Linked DNA regions of Homo sapiens. The protein of the gene in region 1 interacts with the protein of each later gene in a pairwise test. Each region holds a gene or a part of one and is shown in the gene's direction. Other genes may lie near its edges.

Region 1 (3,394 bases):
ACAGGGTCCTCCCCAGGGCTGCTGCAGTAGGCATCAATGCCAGGGTGCAAAATGCCTCAGGGAGCCAAGGCTGAGCCAGGGGAGTGAGAAGGAGCATGTGGAAGTGCGTTTTGGAGAGGCAGCTGCGCAGGCTGTCAGCAGGCTCCGGCCGCTTCTATAGACAGCATGACACCAAGGGCAGTGACCTCATTCCACAGGCTGAGTCCAGCCAGCCAGCCAAGCATCACCAGCCAGACGATTGACCCTAACGGACCAACCAACCCGTAACGACCCCTCCTACCATAACCAGTAGCCAGCCAGCCCATAACCAGCCAACTTATCTATAACCAGCCACCTGACCATAGCCAAACAACCAGCCGGCCCACCAGTAGCATTCAGCCCCTCAGCTGGCCCTGAGGGTTTGGAGACAGGTCGAGGGTCATGCCTGTCTGTCCAGGAGACAGTCACAGGCCCCCGAAAGCTCTGCCCCACTTGGTGTGTGGGAGAAGAGGCCGGCAGGTGACCGAAGCATCTCTGTTCTGATAACCGGGACCCGCCCTGTCTCTGCCAACCCCAGCAGGGACGGCACCCTCTGGGCAGCTCCACATGGCACGTTTGGATTTCAGGTTCGATCCGACCGGGACAAGTTCGTCATCTTCCTCGATGTGAAGCACTTCTCCCCGGAGGACCTCACCGTGAAGGTGCAGGACGACTTTGTGGAGATCCACGGAAAGCACAACGAGCGCCAGGTGAGCCCAGGCACTGAGAGGTGGGAGAGGGGGGCGAGTTGGGCGCGAGGACAAGGGGGTCACGGCGGGCACGACCGGGCCTGCACACCTGCACCATGCCTTCAACCCTGGGAGAGGGACGCTCTCCAGGGGACCCCGAATCAGGCCTGGCTTTTCCCCAAGGGAGGGGCCGTGCCCACCTGAGCACAGCCAGCCCCTCCCGGTGACAGAGGTCACCATTCCCGAGCTAATGTGGCTCAGGGATCCAGGTTAGGGTCCCTTCCCGGGCTGCACCCAGCCGTCGCCAGCTCCATCCCTGTCACCTGGATGCCAGGGTGGTCTTAGAAAGAACCCCAGGAAGTGGGAGTGCCCCGGGTGGCCGCCTCCTAGCCAGTGTACATCTTCACATGAACCCTACCTGAGGAAGCCAGTCCCCGACGGCATAGCTGCATCCGCTTGGAATGCTTTACAGGCATTGACACCTTCGCCTCACAGCAGCACTTTGGAACCAGTGTCCTCATTATTCCAGGGCACGGCTGGGGAACAAGGGGGTCCTCAGCCTGCTGGGTCCCACAGCTAGTACCGGGCAGGTGGACGGGAGCTTCTCCCCACAGTCACCCTGATGCCCCGCTCTTGCTCGGCTGGAGGCCTCGGATCTCCGTGGTGTTGAGGGAGCCGGGGCACTGGAGCCCTGGTGACCTGCATCTCCTGGCGGAGCCGGGAAGAGCTCATGGACTGTCACAGATGGACAGTGCCCCGCGGGGGCTGGAGAGCAGAGTGGGGCTGGAAGGTGGAACTCTTAGCCAAAGTCTTGGTTTCTTTTGGCCAGGGTCCTCTTTCAATGGCTGGAGAAGGTGGTGCTGGGGGGTGAACGCTGACCTCCTCATGTGCTGCCCCTCCCTCGCCTGGGCCCGGTAAAGCCCCCACGTAGCCCCAGCCAGCCTGGAACATGCTTCCTGAGCTCCCAGCTCTTGGTCTTTGCACCCAGTGGAGGAGGAGGTCAGCCCAGGGAGCTGAGTCTGCGGTTTAGGGCGTCCAGGGGACGTGGAAGCATGTGGGTCGTCTGGCCACATTAGGTAGGGCTGCAGAGACCTGGGCTAGAGCAGTCCTGCGGGGTCTGGAAGGGGAAGACTGGCTGAGGTGCGGGGCCTGGTCTGGAATGATCCTGCGATTTTGGAGTGAAGCCATGGAGCGGGAAGAGACAACCCCCCGCGGGGAATAGCCCGGCAAGTGGCCACGAGGCCAGGCTGAGGTCCAGAGAAGCAGGGGCATGAATCCATAAATCCCAGGGGGCCTGGCCATGGGATGTGCTGGCTGCACCCGGCCCCTGTGAGAGCCCCCGCAGGCTGGCCCCCTTCTGCAGTCAGTGGGGCTGGGGCAGCTTCTCTGGCATGGGGCGAGGCAGCCGCCTGCACAGTGGCCCCCCTGACTGTGCGCCCCCACCCTCTCCAGGACGACCACGGCTACATTTCCCGTGAGTTCCACCGCCGCTACCGCCTGCCGTCCAACGTGGACCAGTCGGCCCTCTCTTGCTCCCTGTCTGCCGATGGCATGCTGACCTTCTGTGGCCCCAAGATCCAGACTGGCCTGGATGCCACCCACGCCGAGCGAGCCATCCCCGTGTCGCGGGAGGAGAAGCCCACCTCGGCTCCCTCGTCCTAAGCAGGCATTGCCTCGGCTGGCTCCCCTGCAGCCCTGGCCCATCATGGGGGGAGCACCCTGAGGGCGGGGTGTCTGTCTTCCTTTGCTTCCCTTTTTTCCTTTCCACCTTCTCACATGGAATGAGGGTTTGAGAGAGCAGCCAGGAGAGCTTAGGGTCTCAGGGTGTCCCAGACCCCGACACCGGCCAGTGGCGGAAGTGACCGCACCTCACACTCCTTTAGATAGCAGCCTGGCTCCCCTGGGGTGCAGGCGCCTCAACTCTGCTGAGGGTCCAGAAGGAGGGGGTGACCTCCGGCCAGGTGCCTCCTGACACACCTGCAGCCTCCCTCCGCGGCGGGCCCTGCCCACACCTCCTGGGGCGCGTGAGGCCCGTGGGGCCGGGGCTTCTGTGCACCTGGGCTCTCGCGGCCTCTTCTCTCAGACCGTCTTCCTCCAACCCCTCTATGTAGTGCCGCTCTTGGGGACATGGGTCGCCCATGAGAGCGCAGCCCGCGGCAATCAATAAACAGCAGGTGATACAAGCAACCCGCCGTCTGCTGGTGCTGTCTCCATCAGGGGCGCGAGGGGCAGGAGGGCGGCGCCGGGAGGGAGGACAGCGGGGTCTCCTGCTCGCGTTGGACCCGGTGGCCTCGGAACGATGGGGTCGCCTGCGTCCCTTCCTTCTCCTGAGCTCAAGCGCCTCCCTCCACACTGGGCTGGAAGGAGAGGTTTTGGGGGCAGAGCCTCTGATGGGAAAGGGACTGGGGAGCGGTTCCGAGAGCTGGGGGCGGGGAGGGACCTGGAAGGGGCTGCAGGGAATGGAGGGAGGCCGGGCTCCTTTCTCTGTCCGCGCCGGCACCGGGGCGGGACGCCAGCCCTGGCCTCCTTCTGCGGGGCCGTCCGGTTCTCTCGGGGTCTGCTGGGTCGTCCTGTTCTCTCGGGGGTCCTGCTGCCTTCGGGGCTGGGCTTTAAGGGCACTCGTGCTTTTGAGGAGCTGGAACTCGGCAGCTTCCCCTGGGCAACCCATCATGGCCCCGAGCTGGAGG
Region 2 (3,500 bases), on another chromosome or scaffold:
GTGGTGGCTCACACCTGTAATCCCAGCACTTTGGGAGGCCGAGGCGGGCGGATCATGAGGTCAGGAGATCGAGACCATCCTGGCTAACATGGTGAAATCCCGTCTCTACTAAAAACGCAAAAAATTAGCTGGGCGTGGTGGCGGATGCCTGTAGTCCCAGCTACTCGGGAGGCTGAGGCAGGAGAATGGCGTGAACCCGGGAGGCGGAGCTTGCAGTGAGTGGAGATCGCTCCGTTGCACTGTAGCCTGGGCGACACGGAGCGAGACTCCGTCTCAAAAAAACAAAAACAAAAACAAAAAACAAGCTAGGTGCGGTCGCTCACAATCCCGGCACTTTGGGAGGCTGAGGCAGGTGGATCGCCTGAGGTCAGGAGTTTGAGACCAGCCTGGACAACAGTGAAACCTCATCTCTACTAAAAATACAAAAATTAGCTGGGCATGGTGGTGCATGCCTGTAATCCCCACTACTAGGGAGGCTGAGGCAGGAGAATCGCTTGAACCCAGGAGGCGGAGGTCGCAGTGCCATTGCACTCCATTCTGGGCAACAAAAGCGAAACTCCGTCTCAAAAAAAAAAAGGAAGTAAGACTAGGATTCTACTCAACCTTCTCATTTTTATATACCTGTATCTACTTTTCTTCTAAGCCAAACATTTTGGTTCTACTTGCTCACTGTTTCAACCCACACCGTACACATTTCAGTCTCAGAACAAGATGAACACGTGAACCTCGAAAATTTGAGACAGGTCTCGGTTAACTTAGAAAGTTTATTTTGCTAGTGTTGAGAATGTGTGCCTGTGACACAGCCTCCAGAAGTCCTGATTGACATGTGCCCAAGGTGGTTGGGCACAGCTTGGTTTTATACATTTTAAGGAGACATGAGACATCAATCAATATATGCTAGAAGTACATTGGTTCAGTCCAGAACGGCGGGGACAGCTTGAAGCAGGGAGGGAGCTTCCAGGTCACAAGTAGGTGAGAGACAAATGGTTGCCTTCTTTTGAGTTTCTGATAAGCCTTTCCTAAGGAGGCAACCAGATATGCATCTATCTCAGTGAGCAAAGGGATGACTTTGAATAGAGTGGGAGGCAAGGCTGGGCATGGTGGCTCACGTCTGTAATCCCAGCACTTTGGGAGGCCGAGGCAGGTGGATCACCTGAGATCAGGAGTTCGAGGCCAGCCTGGCCAGCATGATGAAACCCTGTCTCTACTAAAAATACAAAAATTAGTCAGGCTTGGTGGTGGATGCCTGTAATCCCAGGTACTCAAGAGGCTGAGGCGGGAGAATCACTTGAACCCAGGAGGCGGAGGTTACAGTGAGTTGAGATCGTGCCATTGCATTCCAGCCTGGGACAGAGTGAGACTCCGTCTCAAAAAAAAAAAAAAATAGGAATCTTAACATAGCATAATATTAAACTTTAATAGAGTTGTTTAATTGTTAATGCTTATTCTGGCCTTTCTACATTGAGGAACCTTGAGTTTAAAGGAATGAGGGGAAGCACATTTAATACAGTTTGCCTTTTGAGCTTAATTTTTCTAGAAGTACCTTTTTAAACAGTTGTTATAACTAATGTGTAACACTGTTTTTGATAACTGTCAGCTTAAACATGTTGAGCATATATTTATTTAATTAATTTATTTTTTTTGAGACAGACTCTTGCTCTGTCACCTAGGCGGGAATATAGTGATGTGATCATAGTTTGCCGCAGCCTTGAACTCCTGGGCTTAAGCCATTCTCCCACCTCTGACTCTGAAGTAGCTAAGACTGCAGGTTCATGCCAACAGGCTTGGCTAATTTTTTTTTTTTTTTGAGATAAGGTTTCAAAAGCCTGAGCTGTGTTGCTCAGGCTGGTCTTGAATTCCTGGTCTCAAGTGATCCTCCTGTCTCAGCCTCTGAATATGCTAGGATAACAGGCATGAGTCACTGCACCTGACCTGTTTCCAGGTTTTTACTGTTATAAGCAGTGCTCCAATTAATATTACATCTCCATATTGGGCACTTATGAGGTACATCTATAAATACATTCTCAGAAATGAAATTGCTATGTCAAAGAATAATTGCACTTTTCATTTGCATAGACATTTCCAAATTACCCTCCTGGCCCCAATTAATATTCTTACATTTCCATCTTTGGGCACCTATGAAGTATATCTATAGATACATTCTCAGAAGTGAGATTGCCATGTCAAAGAGTAATTACACTTTTACTTTCCGTAGATGTTTCCAGATTATCCTCCTAAGAAGTTACGTTGGTTTATACTCCTACCAACTGTGTATTTTCTCCACATAATTAAGTATGGACACTAAAGTAACAATAGTCCCTATCTTACATGGTTATTGTGAGGATTAAATGAAGTAAATGCCAAAAGGTACCTACTAAGCTGTCAGCAAATGACTTATATTATTAATATAATTATTGTTTTTTTCTGAACTTTATTACCAGAAATATTATAAACCTAGACAGTGCTTCATGAGGTTGGGAAAGAGGGTTCATACAATTGATCTGAGCAATATATGCCTCCAAAATACTGTTATCTGTATTAGAACAGACGAGCTCTGCATCTAGGCCTTGGGCCCAGGGAGTCTGGCATCTGGGGCTGACGTTAGGGGACAGAGTCCACAGGTATATCTCAAATTTGCTGGAAAGGGCATGCCTCAGGAATGGGGCGCAGTAGATGTAACTACATGTGTGCCTCTGCAGCCTGGAATGGCAGCTGTGGCTGTTTGCATGGGGAGGAGAAAGTCATCATTTGGGAGGGACCTTTAGAATATCCCATCCCAAACACTTCTCTCCTTCTCTTACTCTGAAGGGCTTAATTTAAATTTGCTTTGTGGATTAACGTATTGAGAATGATTTAGGGAGTTCCTTACCTAAAAAATGTTTTCCCTCATCTGCACACTGTCGCTTGAAATTTATTTCACAGGAGAGGGAGCCGTAACCATAGGCAGTGTGGTATTATGAAAGGAGTACTGGCTCTTCACTATGGGTTTACTGTGGTTTGCTGAGGGTAGTTGAGTGGGTGAGAAAGTCACTTAGCTGCCCCAAGCCTCACTTTTCTCCATCGGAAAATTAAGTAGCCATGTAATACATGAAAGAGAGAATGTTGTGAAAACACTTTGAGAATGCAAAGGCCAAGTGAAAACATATGTCCGTACAAAAGCTTGTGTGTGAATGTTCAGAGCAGCATTATGTTTAACAGACAAAAAGTGAAACACCCCAGATGTCCATCAGCTAATGAGTGGATCAACAAAATGTGGTCTGTTCATACGATGGAATAGTAGTTGGCAATAGAAAGGATTGAAGCACTCATACCTGGTACAACATGGATGAACTCTGAAAACATGCTAAGTGGAAGAAGCCAGACACAAGAGACCATGTGCTTCATGATTTTACTTATGTGAAATGTCTTCAATAGGCAAATCTTTTTGTTTTTTGTTTTTTGTGAGACTGAATCTCACTCTCTTGCCCAGGCTGGAGTGCAGTGGTGCGATCTTGGCTCAC

The links. Proteins that work in one complex are often made in the same cells at the same time.
Region 2: the proteins of alpha-crystallin A2 chain (region 1) and ADD1 interact in binary tests that used the Homo sapiens proteins (3 or more experiments, as listed by UniProt).

The regions. Positions count from the first base shown.
Region 1 is NC_000021.9:6,561,596-6,564,989, forward strand, and holds the end of alpha-crystallin A2 chain, read left to right. Parts: intron 1-324; exon of another isoform or gene 325-420; coding exon of another isoform or gene 421-498; intron 499-605; coding exon 606-728; intron 729-2,159; coding exon 2,160-2,369; 3' UTR 2,370-2,894; downstream 2,895-3,394. UniProt on the Homo sapiens protein: Contributes to the transparency and refractive index of the lens. In its oxidized form (absence of intramolecular disulfide bond), acts as a chaperone, preventing aggregation of various proteins under a wide range of stress conditions.
Region 2 is NC_000004.12:2,846,844-2,850,343, forward strand, and holds part of ADD1 (alpha-adducin), read left to right. Parts: intron 1-3,500. UniProt on the Homo sapiens protein: Membrane-cytoskeleton-associated protein that promotes the assembly of the spectrin-actin network. Binds to calmodulin.